2 separate regions of the Homo sapiens genome follow, and region 1 is linked to region 2. Evidence: fine-mapped expression QTL. Tissue or cell type: whole blood. Region 2 holds a variant in brackets; the other region holds the start of a gene. All regions are shown on one strand. Distances are from middle to middle.

Evidence for each region. PIP is the estimated chance that this variant, and not a neighbour inherited with it, causes the effect.
Region 1: PANK2 starts here. The variant in region 2 is fine-mapped to the expression of PANK2 in whole blood (TOPMed, PIP above 0.99). The same link has a PIP of 0.9 or more in blood mononuclear cells.

Annotation. Positions count from the first base shown.
Region 1 is chr20:3,884,955-3,893,044 of GRCh38, reverse strand. PANK2 (pantothenate kinase 2) reads right to left here and starts at 3,658. Exons shown (of 7, transcript NM_001386393.1): 1 at 3,317-3,658. The coding sequence starts at 3,614. PANK2-AS1 (PANK2 antisense RNA 1) reads left to right here and starts at 3,872. Exons shown (of 2, transcript XR_001754478.3): 1 at 3,872-4,306; 2 at 4,496-6,676. RefSeq lists silencers at 3,274-3,773, 3,964-4,023 and an enhancer at 4,032-4,583.
Region 2 is chr20:3,966,701-3,974,805 of GRCh38, reverse strand. All of the region lies in intron 1 of RNF24 (ring finger protein 24), which reads left to right. Among named protein-coding and RNA genes, the nearest start is that of RNF24, 45 kb to the left of the region's middle. The variant C/A (reference allele first, on the strand shown) is at 3,840.

The DNA.
Region 1 (8,090 bases), 82 kb after region 2:
AATGGTAGCTACATTACCATCATTAGCGTCTTGGTTTCCATCATTTTAAAATCAATCTTTATTTGGTATTTCTTTCAGCCCTGCGAGACATACCCCCCTCCCCACCTGATGCAAAACTTTTGAAGAACTTAAATATACACATGCCTAGCCTCATCGCTAGGGATTCTGATGCAGTAAGTCTGGGACAAGGGCCGGTTTGGGAACTACACTGCTCTAGGAAACGCGTGACAGAACACGACTACAACCAGGACCACAAGAATGCCTAAGATAACCTGAATAGCTCCTTCGACTTTCAAATGACAACTAGTATCTATCTGCACCTTTAGACAAGTAGTGCGGTATCAGAGTAAGGCTTTTTTTTTTTTTTTTTTGAGACAGAGTCGCTCTGTCGCCCAGGCTGGAGTGCAGTGGCGCGATCTTCGATCACTGCAACCTCTGCCTCCCGGGTTCAAGCAATTATCTGCCTCAGCCTCCCGAGTAGCTGCGACTACGGGCACGCGTCACCACACCCGGCTAATTTTTTTGTATTTTTAGTAGAGATAGGGTTTCACCAGAAAGGTGGCACCATTCCATACCCAAACCTCCCAACAATAAATAAAAAAGATTTAGTCTTAGTTGAATTCTCTCAGAGATAAGACTGAAGTATACTCTAGGAGGGTTCGGCAGTCAACAAGCTGCTTCTCCTTTTTTTTTGTTTTTTTTTTGAGGAGTCTCACTGTATCATACAGGCTGCAGTGCACTGGCACAATTTCGGCTCACTGCAACCTCCACCTCCCAGGTTCAAATGTTTCTCCCACCTCAGCCTCCTGAGTAGCTGGGATTACAGGCATGCACCACCACGCCCAGCTAATTTTTGTATTTTTTAGTAGAGACGGGGTTTCAACATGCTGGCCAGGCTGGTCTCTGGTCTCGAACTCCTGACCTCAGGTGATCCACCCGCCTTGGCCTCCCAAAGTGCTGGGATTACAGGCATGAGCCACTGCGCCCAGCCTGCTTCTCCACCTAACAGGGGCACCCCTAGATAGTACAGAAGAAACAAATGGAAGGAAGAACAATCAGTATCCTGTTCATTCCTTTAGCAGGTCTTATACTGGAAAGATGGGTTTTCATGATTTATCAGCCAGAGAAGATAATGAAGGGAATCACGACAAACATCAAACATCAAAACAAAATATAAATCCTATAGCATGAATATGTGTCTACTTAGTTCCCTAAAATAAGTTTCAAAACTACCTTAATATAATTCTCCCCACCCAGTGTAAACCGGTTTTTCTGAGTGTGGTCTTTGAGTCACCTGTATTTGAATATGAGGAGCTTAACTGGGCCCACTGAATCTGCACTTTTACCAGGTCATTCTCATGCTCAATATTTGGAAGTACTTCCACAGTATCTAAAAATTTTCGCCTCAAGTAAGTCAGTCTTGAACACAAAAGATCAAACTTATGCTTGGTCTTAGAGCAATGAAGAAATAACTAACAGAACGTAAATAATTCAGAAAAACACAGTGGTCCACCGCAAAAGCTATGAAGCTAGCAATTCTGAGTTTACATTTCTATTTCACAACGCACTAGCCATTTGACCGGGCAAACGTGTCCCAGTTTTCTCATCTGTAAAATGGAATACTACCACCTACCTCAGAGCCACGAGGCTAATGAGTTACCAAAGCTCTTAGTAGACGACTGCCAGGTCGGGCACAATGGCTCCCGTCTATATCCCAGCACTTTGGGAGGCCGAAGTGGGAAGATCGCTTGAGACCAGGAGGAATTCAAGACCAGCCTGGGCAACATAAGAGATCCCATCTCTATTTAAAAAAATAAAAATTGAAAAATTAGCCTGGCATAGTGGCACGTGCCTTTAGTCCCAGCAATGCAGGAGGTTGAAGCAGGAGGATGGCTTGAGCCCAGGAGGTTAAGGCCACAATGAGCCATGATCATGCCACTGCACTTCAGCCTGGGCAACAGAACAAGACGCTGTCTCAAAGTAAAAAACAAAAAACAAACCAAAAAAACCCTTGTGGCTAATGGCTATACTCTTATTTGCTGAATCTTTGGAATTTACATCCATTTCCAACGATGTAATACAAAACCATGAAGGATCTCATATTTTGCATTGCTTCAAACTCAGGTGCTTCTCAAATAAAACAAAACTAGGTGACTGACTCTGAAAATGGCACAGGTTAAGAATCTGTTTTCCAAATCTGTTGCAAGAAGATGGAAAAAGACAAAAGAACTGAAAACTCCCAAACTTTTCACAGCAAAATAGAACTACATTTAATCATCCATATCAGAGAAGATTCAAAAAAGCAGTTGGGTGACTGGGCTAAGGTAGAAGACTATTCAATAAAAATCTCACATCTTGCCATTTTCCCTCCCTCTCACAATCTGCATTTAAACAAGTCAATTTCCTGAAATAGGAATCTGGCAACACCCACCAAAAAGTCCAACCATATGTAAAATGGCATCACACTGTAAAGCTCATATTACAGTATCAGGACAATTGATACTTTCAACAGCAGCAATGGCTGCCAGGCAGCGGTCCTGAATTGAAGACTTGTAAAGGGGAGAAAATACACAACACAGAAAAAGAAACCTAATAAAATGGGGAAACGGATTCTCTGGGAGGAGCGTATGCAACTCCCAAGGCAAAATTCAGAAAGATGTTGTTTCCCCTCAAAACAAAGAGCCTTAATGCCCAGAATGCCACAGTTCTGAATCGTGAGTACCTGCAAATAGACAGAAGGAAAACGGAGGGGATATGTGGGTGAGAGATGACCTGGATTCTCACGAGAAGAAGGGCAGCCACCTTAGAGGTGCACGGAATACAGTTTCAGGCCTGGTGCAACTCAAGGGGCAGTTCACCATTTTCCAGTAAGCCCGAAATTGACGAATAAAAGGGACTTAAAGTATTAGAGAGCAGCTCTTTGGAAACCCACGGAAAACAAACATTGGGGATTCAAAGGATTTGGGAGGAAAGGAGGTGGAAATGAGTCAAAAGAAGCCTTCTCGAGGATAAAATCATGTGACCCTCAGGAAGAGAATGCCCAAGGAGCTAAGAAAAGGGAGGACAGGTCCTGGGGAAAAGCCCTCCACTCCAACAAGCGGGAAGTGCATACCAATGGGTGCGGGGGGGCCCCCGAAGGTACCGCTTTCGGAGCACCCGAGGCCTCCAGCCGGATGTCAGGCCACGCACCAACGAGGGACCACCGTGCGGGGACAGTGTCCGCGCGCGGGAAAAACGGCGGCGGGGCCGGAAGGGGACAGGGTGGGCCGGAAGGGGGGGCAGGGCGGGCCGGGAGGGCGCCCCACGGAACACTTACGCGGCCGCTTTTTCCTCAGGCTTTCGACGCGCTGGCGGGAGACCGAGGTGGGGCCGCTGTAAGAGCCCAGTCGATCCCGCCTCGTGCCCTCAGCCGAGGCCCCGACCGCGGGCACCGACGCGCTGCTCGCCCGGCGCCGCAGTGGCTCCTGCCGCCGCCCTTCGGGGTCCCCGGCCGCCTGCTCCCCAGCCGACGAGACGGAGGTGGCGGAAGCCCTGCCGTGGCGCTCCATGGGCGCGCCGAGCCGGCCCCCTCCCATCCGCAGCAGCAGTCGCTGCCGCCCGAGCAAGCCCCCCAGCGTCGGATTCCTTCTCGCCTCCTCCGCGGCAGTCCAGCCAGAGCAGAGGCGCGCCCTCGGCCGGCCGCCTCTTCCGTTGCGCCAACGCGCAGGAAGCCAATCCGACGAGGCTGGGGACGGCCCAAAGGCCTCGCGTCCAGTCGGCTCCCTAACTCGAGGAGGATTGACCGTGCCTCCGTCCAATGAGAGGCTATCGTGACGGGGCGGGGAGAGGGTGGTGGAGGAGGGGATCCGGGTTCCGCGGAGGAAGAGAAGGCGGTGTAGCCCAGAAGAGAGTGATGGCGGCGCCGCCCAATGGACGCGTGGGTGGAAGGGCCCGAGCCTCCTCATCCACCCCCTCCTTCCGCCCCCCACTTGTGCATGCCTCTGCCCCCCCGGGCCGCGGAACTCTCCTGGGGCGACCCCGAGTCCCACCCCGCTGCTCCGTGCCGTCCTCGCAGCTCGAGCCCTCCTCCAGCCCAGCAGTGCTCCCGCAGCGTCTGGCCGCTGGTCGTCGGCAGACGAAAGGGCTTGAACCGCGGCTGACCTTAGCCTTTGTCCCTCGGCCTAGTTCCGCAGCTGCCGTCGAGGCCGCCAGCCCCTCCCCCAGCATGTTTGGGCTAAGCCGCCTCCTTTCCGCCTGCGTTGGAGAGAGAGGTACCAGAAGGAATGAAAGGACTGGGGCTTGTCTCCATGGCAACTGAAAGAAAGAGGTGGGTTATAAATCCTTCGCCACCCTCCTGTGGCGAAGGAGGGGAAGTGGGAGCCGGGAAGTAGAGTTGGCCTTTTGCAGGAGAGTCTGGAGCCCCTTTCTGGGTGATGCATTGGGGGCCATAGAAGGATTTGGCTGCCGCTTTGGAGCATGGATTTTTTTTTTAATCATCTTCCTTTCTCTTTTGGAGAGAAAAATTGGTCACCTCCAGGACTGAGACCCTGACCCTTCCAAGCATCCCCACTACCAAAGGCTGCCCAAGCCCGGAAGGATCCCATCCCGTTCTGTACTCTGAGGTCACTTCCTCACTCCGTCAAATTTCACTGGACTGTGGGCTAATTAAAAGTGCCTCCGTATTAGCGGGGCGTGGTGGCCCATGCCTATAATCCCAGCTACTTGGGAAGCTGAGGCAGGAAAATTGCTTGAACCCGGGTGGCGGAGGCTGCAGTGACCCAACATTGTGCAACAAGAGCGAAACTCCGTCTCAAAAAAAATAAAAAATAAAAAAGAGTGCCTCCCTGGGGAGACTGTAATGCCCACTGGGCAGTGATCCTAATGCCCCTTGGGCAGTGATCCTTATTCCCCTCTCCCATAATGATTGGTTGTAGCAGGCTGAACAAAAAGGTTGAGCTTCGCTTGTGCTTGCTGAATAGAATTCTCACGCCCACTCCACGTTAGCTCCCCTCACTGTAGGACTAGCTCTGAAAATTCTAGCTCCTGTAGGAAGCCAACACAGACGGATCTACAAGAACCAAAAACAGCTATAGCTACTCTTCTAAATCTCAGTGCCTGACATTGCCTCTCTTTCTGCCTCCTCTCTCCACCCCCCAAAAAATGTGGTCCTCCTTGACCTGAGGGAGCTTCCGTCCAAGTCTGAGCTCTGATCATCCTGAAGAATCAAAGTATCATCATCCCTTGGCTGGCAAGATGAACTCCAACATCAAAACACTTGAAACAGTAGTATTTTTACACAATTTGCCCACTGCCTCTACATCTCACTTAGTCCTTGCAGTAACATTTGGATGATGAGGTAACTTATCCAGAAGCACAAAGCCTAAAGAATGACAGAGCTTGGACTCCTGAGAAGTTCAGCTACTGCCCGCCTTATGATAACCAAAAGAAAGCGGCCGGGCGCAGTGGCTCAACTCCTGTAATCCCAGCACTTTGGGAGGCCGAGGCGTGCGAATCACAAGGTCAGGAGTCCGAGACCAGCCTGGCCAACACAGGGAAACCCCGTCTCTACTAAAAAAAACAAACACAAAAATTAGTTGGGCGTGGTGGTGGGCACCTGTAATCCCAGCTACTTGGGAGGCTGAGGCAGGAGAGTCACTTGAATCCGGTAGGCGGAGGTTGCAGTGAGCCGAGATCGTGCCACTGCACTCCAGCCTGGGAGACAGTGAGACTCCGTCTCTAAAAAAAAATGAATAAATAAATAAGAAGGCACACCACAAGTTCGAGACCACTTCTACAAAAAATAAAAAATAAAAAAAATTAGGCCAGGCACAGTGGCTCATGCCTGTAATCCAAGCACTTTGGGAGGCTGAGGCGGGCGGATCACTGGAGGTCAGGAGTTTCAGACCAGCCTGGCCCAACATGGTGAAACCCTGTCTCTACTAAAAATACAAAACTTAGCTGGGCGTAGTGGTGCGTGCCTGTAATCCCACTTACTCCAGAAGCTGAGGCAGAAGAACTGCTTGAACCTGGGATGCAGAGGTTGCAGTGAGCTGAGATTGCACCACTGCACTCCAGCCTGGGCAACAGAGTGGGACTCTGCCTCAAAAAAAAAAAAAAAAAGAAAATGAAGATGACCAAATGGGCTTCTAGATGGCTAATGATATTCTGTTTCTTTGATCTGGGTGGGGGTTACATGGGTGTGTTCCCTTTGTAATATGTTATCAAGACATTTTGTGCACTTTTTTGGGTATTATACTGAAAGAAAACATTTATTTTTTAAAAAGTTGAAAAATTGCCTTGGAGCAGAGTAAGGTAAATCTATGATTAAGCTTAGATTTTTTTATTTTTTATTTTTTATTTTTTTTCAAAAAAAATGAGGCCAGGCGCGGTGGCTCACGCCTGTAATCCCAGCACGTTGGGAGGCCGAGGTGGGCAGATCACGAGGTCAGGAGGTCGAGACCATCCTGGCTAACACGGTGAAATCCCATCTCTACTAAAAATACAAAAAATTAGCCAGGCATGGTGGCAGGCACCTGTAGTCCCAGCTACTCGGGAGGCTGAGGCAGGAGAATGGCATGAACCTGGGAGGCAGAGCTTGCAGTGAGCCAAGGTCACGCCACTGCACTCCAGCCTGGGTGACAGAGCAAGACTCGTCTCAAAAAAAAAAAAAAAAGTAAAATGAACCTAACAAGAGGCATCCTTTCTCTGTGGTTATTATAGTGAGAACTAAGTTCTTTATCACTCTCCGGTTATTTACCCCTAGAGAGAAGCCAACTTTCTGGTTGTATACACCAGAATAAGTACAAGAATGGTAAGCATAGAGCTTCAGAGAAACTAGCCAGATTCTAAAGGAATGACTTGAAAATCGAGAGCCGTTTCAATGACAAAACATCATACAAAATATTCATCTACCACATTAGAGGCCTATCGCTAGGTAAAAACACCAAAACTTCAGCTTAAACAGTAGTATGTATGTATGTATTATCCCAGTTTCTGTGAGTCAGGAATTCAGGATTGATAAGCTGGGTGGTTCTTGTTCAGAATCTTTCAAGAGGTTGCAGTCCTCTGAAAGTGTAGTGGGTTGGGGTATCCACTTCCAAGGTGGCTTGCTCATATGGCTGGCAAGTTGGTGCTGGCTGTTGGCAGGAGGCCTCAGCTCACAATGCAGGCTTTCATAGGACTACGTGAGTGTCCTTTCAACATGGCAGCAGGCCTTCCCTAGAGCTAGTGAAGGATGAGAAAACGACAAATCGCAATGTCTTTTATGACCTAGGCTGGGAAGTTATACTCCATCATTTATGCAATATCCTGTTATCACACAGGTCATCCCTATTCAGTGTAGGTTGGTACTACACAAGGACATGAATATCAGGAGGAAGAGAATCTCTGGAGGCCATCTTGGAGCCCATAGTCCGCCTTCTGCCCCCTAATGATTCACGTCTTCGTCTGTTCCTGCTCTCTAAGAGCCAGGAGGCAGACTTCCCTTGAGCTTTCTTGCAGCTAAAGTAGAGCATCATTAGCAGTAAAAATTAAGATATCATCACAAAGGCCAGGCACAGTGGCTCACGCCTGTAATCCCAACACTTTGGGAGGCCAAGGTGGGCGGATCACCTGAGGTCAGGAGTTCGAGACATGCCTGGCCAACATGGTGAAACCCTGTCTTCACTAAAAATACAAAAATTAACCTGGTGTGTTGGCGGGCACCTCTAATCCCAGCTACTTAGGAGGCTGAGCCAGGAGAATCACTTGAAACCAGAGGCGGACGTTGTAGTGAGCCAAGATGGCACCACTGAACTTGAGCCTGGGTGACAGAGCAAGACTCCATCTCAAAAAAAAAAAAAAAAAAGACATCACAAGATTGCCAGGCACAGAGGCTTAAACACCAAGTTCTTTCTCATGTCATCGTGTTTCGTCGGTGCCGAGGACATGAGGGGTGTAGATCAGGCCTGTTTCAAACACAAGGCCTTTTGGCCAGAGTGTAATGGTGTGAGGACTTGGGAAGACCTTACCTACTTAACTGTCTCTCTCAAAGGACAAAGGTATGAGGGGGTTAAAAAAAAAAAAAAAAAGGCAAAGCTATGAAGAACATGAAGTTCTTAAGCCCCTAGACA
Region 2 (8,105 bases):
CTTCAAATCCATGAACATAGTATGTCTCTGCATTTATTTAGATTTTACTTGATTCCTCTAATCATCATTTTGTCATTTTTAGCATATAAGTCCTGTACATATCTAATGTCTTATTAAATTTAATTCTTTGTATTTCTTTTTTTGAACAATTGTAAATGTCATTGTATTTATAATTTCAGTGTTCCTATGTTCATTGCTAATTTATAAAAACACAGTTGATTTTTATATGTATATCTGGTATCCTGCAACCTTGCTGAACTCATTTATTAGTTTTAGAAATTTTTTTGAAGATTCTTTGGGATTTTGTTGTTGTAGATGTTGATGTGGCAAATAGGCTCAGTTTAATTTCTTCCTTTCTGATGTGTATGCCTTTTATTCCCTTTTCTACCTTATTGCACTGGCTAGAACTTCCAGCACTATGTTGAATAAGAGTGGTGAGAGCAGATATCCTGCCTTGTTCCCGGTCTTAGGGGGGTAAGTATTCAGTCTTTCACAATTAAGAATAATATTAGCTGTACAGTTTTTGTTGTTATTGTTTGGTTGGTTTTTGCCGGTTTGTTTTTTGTAGATGCTTTTTAACATGTTGAAGAAGTTCTCTTCCATTTCTATTTCTGGGAGTTTTTTAATTTCTGGGTGCTGATGTTTGTGAAATGTGTTTTTTTTAAATCAGTTAATATGATCATGTGATTTTTCTTCTTTAGCCATTTAATATGGATAGATTACATTGATTTTTTTTTTTTTTAATATTAAGCCAGCCCCGCATCTCTTGAATAAACCTTACTTGGTCATGGTGTTGTAAAATTCTATTTACATATTGCCAAATTCTACTTGCTAATATTTTGTTAAGAATTTTTCTGTCTGTATTTGCCAGACACTGTCTTTATCTGGTTTTGCTATCAAGGTCGCATTGGCTTCAAAAAATGCCTTGAGAAATGTTCCCTCCCATTCTCTGCAAAAGATTGTCAAGGATTTGTGCTCATTCTTATTTAAACTTTTGGTAGAATTCTCTGGTAAAAGCCTCTTGGCCTGGAGCTTTCTTTTTTGTGAATTTTTAAATGACTAATTCAGTTTCTTTGATAGTTATAAAACTGTTCACATTATCTATTTTATATTGGGTGAGTTTTTGTAGTTTGTGTTTTTTGAGGAATTGGTCTGTTTTATTTATGTTACTAAATTTATGTCTGTATATGTGTGTATACCCTTCTTATCCTTTTGATGTCTGCAGTGTCTGTAGTGATCTCTCCTATTTAATTGTTGATATAGGTAATTTGTGTCTTCTCTTTTTTTTTTTTTTTTTTTTTTTTTGTCATTCTTCCTAGAGATTTGTCAGTGTTACTGATCATTTCAAAGAAAAGACTCAGCTTTTTGTTTCATTGATTTTTCTCTATTGTTTTCCTATTCTCAATTTAACTGGTTTCTGTTCTTTAATTTTTAACTTGCCCTTTTTCTGGGTTCTTGATGTAGGAGTTTAGATTATTGATTTGAGATTTTTTATTTTCTTATGTGTGCGTTTAGTACCATGAATTGCCCACTCAGCACTACTTTACCTATGTCTCTCAAATTTTGATATGTTGTATTTTCATTTTCTTTTTTTTTTATTTTGAGATGGCGTTTCGCGTGTGTCACCCAGGCTGGAGTGCAGTGGCACAATCTCAGCTCACTGCAACCTCCACCTCCCGGGTTCAGTCAATTCTCCTGCCTCAGCCTCCCGAGTAGCTGGGATTACAGGCACCTGCCACCACACCCAGCTAATTTTTGTGTTTTTAGTAGAGACGGGGTTTTACCTAGTTGGCTAGGCTGGTCTCAAACTCCTAACCTCATGTGATCCACCCGCCTCGGCCTCCCAAAGTGCTGAGATTACAGGCGTGAGCCATCCCGTCCAGCCCTTTTTTTTTTTTAAACTGAGACGGAGTCTCACTCTGTCGCCCACGTTGGAGTGCAGTGGCGCGATCTCGGCTCACTGCAATCTCCGCCGCCAGGATTCAAGCGATCCTCGTGCCTTAGCCTCTTGAGTAACTGGGACTACAGGTGCGTGCCACCACGCCCGACTAATTTTTTTGTATTTTTAGTAGAGATGGGGTTTCACCATGTTGGCCAGTCTGGTCTTGAACTCCTGACCTCAGGTGATCTGCCCGCCTCGGCCCTCCACAGTGCTGGGATTATAAGCGTTAGCCACCACACCCAGCCTGTATTTTCATTTTCAATCAATTCAGTGTATTTTTAAAAATTTCTTTTAAGACCTCTTTTTGACTTATAGATTATTTAGTAGTGTGTTGATTAGTTTCTAAGTGTTTGGATATTTTCTTGCTACCCTTCTGTTATAAATGTCTAGTTTGATTCAACTATGTCCAGTAACACACTCTATATGACTTCGATTTTTGAAAGGTTGTTTGAGATTTGTTTTATGACCAGGAATGTGGTCTGTCCTGGTGTAGGTGCCATGGGTATTTGAAAAGAATGTATATTTTGCTGTTGCTAGGTAGAGTGCTCTATATATTTTGAGTAGATCCTGTTGTCTAATTGTGTTGTTGAATTTTTCTTTATCCTTGCTGGTTTTCTATCTAGTTGTTTCATCAGCTGTTGGGAGAAGGTTTTGAAGTATTTGAGTATAATTATAGATTTCTTTATATCTCCTTTCAGTTCAGTCAGTTTTTCCTTCACATGTTTTGCAGCTCTGTTGTTTTGTGCATGCACATTTAGGATTGCTATGTATTTTTAGTGGGTTGACCATTTTATCATTAGGTAATGTTTCTTTCTCTCTCTGGTAATTTTATTTTCTGTGAAATCTGCTTTGATGTTAATATAGCCACTCCTGCTTTCTTTTGATTAATGCTTGCATTACATATCTTTTTCCATCCTTTTCAACATGCATGTATCATTATTTTTAAAGTGAGTTTCAGGTAGACAGCATATTATTGGGTGATGTTTTTTAATTCATTCTGCCAGTCTCTGTGTTTTAATTGGCATATTTAAATCATTTATACTTAAGCTTGCCATTTTAAACTTTGTTTTCTATTTGTTTTCACTATTTTTGTTTCTGTTACTTGAGTAATTTTTTGAAGTCCTTTTTGATTTTTTGTAGTGTTTTGAGTGTATGTCTTTGTATAGTTTTCTTACTGATTGCTGTAGGCATTGTATTATATATGCAGTCTACTAGTATACTTTACCAGTTCAGACTAGAAATGTTACCTCCTTTTATGTCCCTTTATCCTCCCTTATTTTTAATATGCTCATCTTAAATATTTCCTCTGAATACATTTAGAACCGGGTTGGACAATTATAATTTTTCTTCAACCACTGAATATAATTTAGAAAACTCAAGAGAAGGAAGTTTATTGTATTTACCCTTATATTTGTTTACCATGTTGTTTCTTCCTTCTTGATGTTCCAAGGTTCCTTTTCTTATCATTTCCCTTCTGTTAAGACAGCTTCCTTTAGTCACTCTTCAAGAGTAGGTCTGCTAGCAATAAATTCCCGTTGTTTTCCTTCATGTGAGGCTGTCTTGATTTCCTGTTTCATTCCTGAAGGGTATTTTTGCTGGATGTAGGATTTTGGGTTGATGGCTCTTTTCTTTCAGCACTTGAAAAATGTGTTCCTTCCTTTTGGCCTCCATTGTTTCTGATGAGAAATCTGTGTCTTTCATATTATTTCCCCCAATGGTATCTCCTTAGTTGCTTTCAAGATTTTTTAGTGTTGTTTTAACTCAATTACCTCTGCAAAGAAAAAAAAAGATTTTGTTGTTGTTGTTTTAGTTTTCAGAAGTTTGACTACGATGTGTCTTGTTGTAGATTTCTTTGGGTTTATTCTCTTTGGAGTTTGTTCAGCTTCTTAAATCTGTA[C/A]ACTTATGTACAGATTCCTCAGCTTGCCGAGTAGCTGGGATTACAGGTGCCCACCACCATGCCTGGATAATTTTTGTATTTTTAGTAGAGACAGGGTTTCACCATGTTTGCCAGGCTTGTCTCGAACTCCTGACCTGAAGAGATCCATCCACCTTGGCCTCCCAAAGTGCTGGGATTACAGGTGTGAGTCACCGTGCCTGGCCCTAGTTCACTTATGCTTTCCCCTTTCTTCTCCATTCTGCTGTTGAGCCCATCGCTTAGTTTTAGTTTTTTTATTTCAATTATTGTGTTTTTCAGTTCTATAATTTCCATTTTGTTCCTCTTTATATCTTCTGTTTCTTTGCTGAGAATTTCAGTGTTTTCACTTGTTTCAAGCATGTTCATAAATGCTTGCTTAAACAATTTGATGACGGCTACTTTAAAATCTTTGTCAGATAATTTTAACATTTTTGTCATTGACATTAGCATCTGTTAATTATCATTTCTCATTTGATTTGTGATCTTCCTAGTCTTGGTACGATGAGTAATTTTTAGTTGAAACCTGGACATTTTGTGTATTATGTTATGAGACTCTGGATTTTTTTTAAACCTGATGTGTTAACTGGCTTCCTTTGACAGCACTCTGACAGTGAAACGGTGGGTTGTAATGCTGCTTCATTAATGCCAGGTAAAGGTAGAAGTCCAGGTTCCCTATTTAGCCTTTATTGACATGGGGGGCGGGGACGGGGCAGGAATGGGAGTTCCAGCTCTCAACTAGGCTTTCACTGATACCTCTTTGGCTGGAAAAGGTAGGAGTGCTTGTTGCCACTTGGTGGTGGTAAAATCCCGATTCTTCACGAGATCCTCCTCTGTCATCACCCCATTGAGGAGGAGTATAGTCACTTTGTTACTGCTGGATAGGGGTAGAAGTCAGGGTCCACATGTAGTCTCTACTGATATCACTGAGGTGGAGCCTCATTTTCACCATGTTGTGTAAAAATTCCAGCTGGCCAACATGGTGAAACTCTGTCTCTACTAAAAATACAAAAATTAGCTGGGCATGGTGGTGGGCGCCTGTAGTCCCAGCTACTCGGGAGGCTGAGGCAGGACAATCGCTTGAACCTGGAAGGCGGAGGTTGCAGTGAGCCAAGATCACACCACTGCACTCCAGCCTGGTGACAGAGCAAGACGCCATCTCAAAAAAAAAAAAAAAACAGATTTCAGCTTCCTACTTGGCCTTTTCTAACACTATCCCAGCAAGATGGCTGGGGGGCATCTCGTTACATCCTGGCAAGAGTGAAAATCTAGGCTCTGCCTTCAGCCTTTGCTGGCATGTCTATAGGGGTGTGGCCATAGTTTTTTCTGGGTTGTTTAGCTGAAGTAGGGCAATTCTTGTTTAAAAGCTTTCAGTCTTGTTAACTACTCCTTTTGTCATCCTTTGGCTAGAGAGAACACGTTCATTAGGGCTTTTTTTTTTTTTTGTCTTCACCTGTTGACATTCTTGTTTGCCAACTTTGCCAGCTCTAAGTCTGGGATATAGGAGACAAAAACAAAGCCCAGAGAACTCGTTAACATGTGGTTCCTTGGGTCCCCAGGTCCCTAGTTAGTGTGCTACCTTCTGTCCAACTTAATGTCCATGGTTTTTAGTTATATTTAGCTGGATAAATAGGGAAATGTATGTCTATGCCATCTTTCTGGAGTCAGAAGTCTACCTGACTGTCTTTTAATGGAGATACAGACAGTGATTCCATTATCTTTTATTGTTGCATTTTAGTTAATAATGAAAACTAACATTTCTCAAGTACACAGTATGTGCCCAGGTACTGTTCTAAGTGCTTTAAGTGCTTTTCGTGTGTTGAGTCATTTAATTCCCTTAAAACTTTATGAAATAGTTACTAGTATTATTCTGTCTTATCAGATGAGGAAACCGAGACATAGAAAAGATAAGAAACAAGCCCCAAATTACTGACAAATCCGTGGTTAAACCCCTGGCTCTCTGACTCCATAAGCCCACTCTAATACTCATGGCCTAGGATAAATCTCAAATCTATATGCTTTCCATTATAACAACTTTTTTTTTTTGGAAACTTATCACAGTTTTTCTATCCTAGAATTCAGAAATTTTACTAGGATCTGTCCAAATATAGGTCTTATTTTTAAAATAATTCTCTCTAGAACCCAGTGTATCCATTTCATCAGAAAGCTTAGGTCTTTCTACTGATCAGTGACATGTTTTTAAAATTTTTAATCTTTCCTCTCATCCACCCACTCAAGAAAAGATTTTGCAGAAGGTGTTTCATGTGGTCATAAAGATACTCAATAAATAACAAAGAAGTTAGTTCCTTCTAATATGTCAAAAGCTTTCTCTTTTAGAGATAGTCTTGCTTTGTCACCCAGGCTGGAGCGTAGCAGTGATATCATAGCTCACTGTAACCTTGAATTCCTGGGCTCAAGTGATCCTCCCATCTTAGCCTCCAGAGTAACTAGTACTACAAGCACATGCCACCATGCCCAACTAATTTTTTAATTTTTATTTTTATTTGTACAGGTGGGGTCTCCCTGTGTCTCCCAGGCTGGTCTCAAATCCCTGGCCTCGAGCAGTCCTCCCACCTCAGCCTCCCAAAGTACTGGGGTTACAGGCATGTACCACTGCACCCAGCCCCTTTCTGAGCATTTTTTTTTTCCTTTGAGATGGAGTCTTGCTCTGTCCCAGGCTGGAGTGCAATGGTGCGATCTCAGCTCACTGCAACCTCTGCCTCCCAGGTTGAAGCTAATCTGCCTCAGCTTCCTGAGAAGCTGGGATTACAGGCGCACGCCACCAGGCCCATCTAATTTTTGTATTTTTTAGTAGAGACGGGGTTTCACCACATTAGCCAGGCAGGTCTCGAACTCCTGACCTCGTGATCTGCCCACCTGGGCCTCCCAAAGTGCTGGGATTACAGGCGTGAGCCACCGCACCCAGCCACCTGTTACATTTTTTATTCTTTCTTTCTTTTTTTTTTTTTTTTTTTTTTGTTGCCAGGCTGGAGTGCAGTGGCGCAATCTCGGCTCACTGCAACTTCCGACTCCATGGTTCAAGGGATTCTCCTGCCTCAGCCTCCCGAGTAGCTGGGATTACAGGCATGCGTCACCACGCTCAGCTAATTTTTGTATTTTTATAGAGACAGAGTTTCACCATATTGGCCAAGATGGTCTCGATCTCCTGACCTCGTGATCTGCCCGCCTCAGCCTCCCAAAGTGCTGGGATTACAGGCATGAGCCACTGCACCCGGCACTTCTGAGCATTTTTGAAGCAAAACTAGAATATTGACTCCTGGGAAGATGATATGGTATTGTCCAGGGAACAGGAACTGGTCTAAGAAGAATGTGGCTACCAAGCATGCTTTGAGGAATGCTACTGCAGCCCCATTTAGCTGTGGTGTATTGTGTTAAACTCAGGTCATGTAGGCATCCAAATCTCAAGTAATCTGTCCCTCTTAGAACTTCTTGGTTCTAAGATTGCTGATAAAATACTCAAATCTTCTTGTCTTTTTTTTTTGTTTTGGTTTGATTTTAATAAACTGACTGGGTGGTTTGAAATTTAGGCTGAGGCTAGAGATTTCAAGAACTGAATTTACATAAGGGGAAAAAAAGGCTTTCACGTGAATGAAGTTGGAAATGCCAAGTAAGCTACAACAGTGTACTGTATGTTCTATTTCTCCTCTTCACTCCCACAAGGAGCAATTACTAAATAACTTATATTTGTAAGACTTCAATAGCAAAGAATGCATATTACTAAGATGATATGTAGCCTTTTATCAATTTATTTTAAAAGATTAATACTTCTGGTGAAAATACATTATGATAAAAATTTTGTAAAAACTAATGTGTCACTGGATCAGGATTAACATCTTGGAATACTCTACCATCTACTTAAAATTGTTGGGCCAACATATCAATTGTAGTGAAGCCATTTTATTTACTAAAACAAAGAGAGAAAAATTCCTAAAATATATTCGCATCAACATATCTTCTACCAGCCTGGATCCCTCTGGTAATTGGGATTTATTAAAAGGCCCTGCCAGGTAGTGAGGACTCACAAAAGTCTCAACATCCAGCCCCCAGCAGCACTAAGGCAGATGTCTCTTCCCTCTGATGACAGTGCTACTACCTCTACTGCTGTGTGTGTCTGAGTCTTTGTACAGAATGCTACAAGAATTGTACCAATTTCAAGAACTCTGCAGGGCAACATTCCCACACCACTGGCCTCACTCCTAGCTAGCCTGTATTAATGGCTGCCTTTGGCCA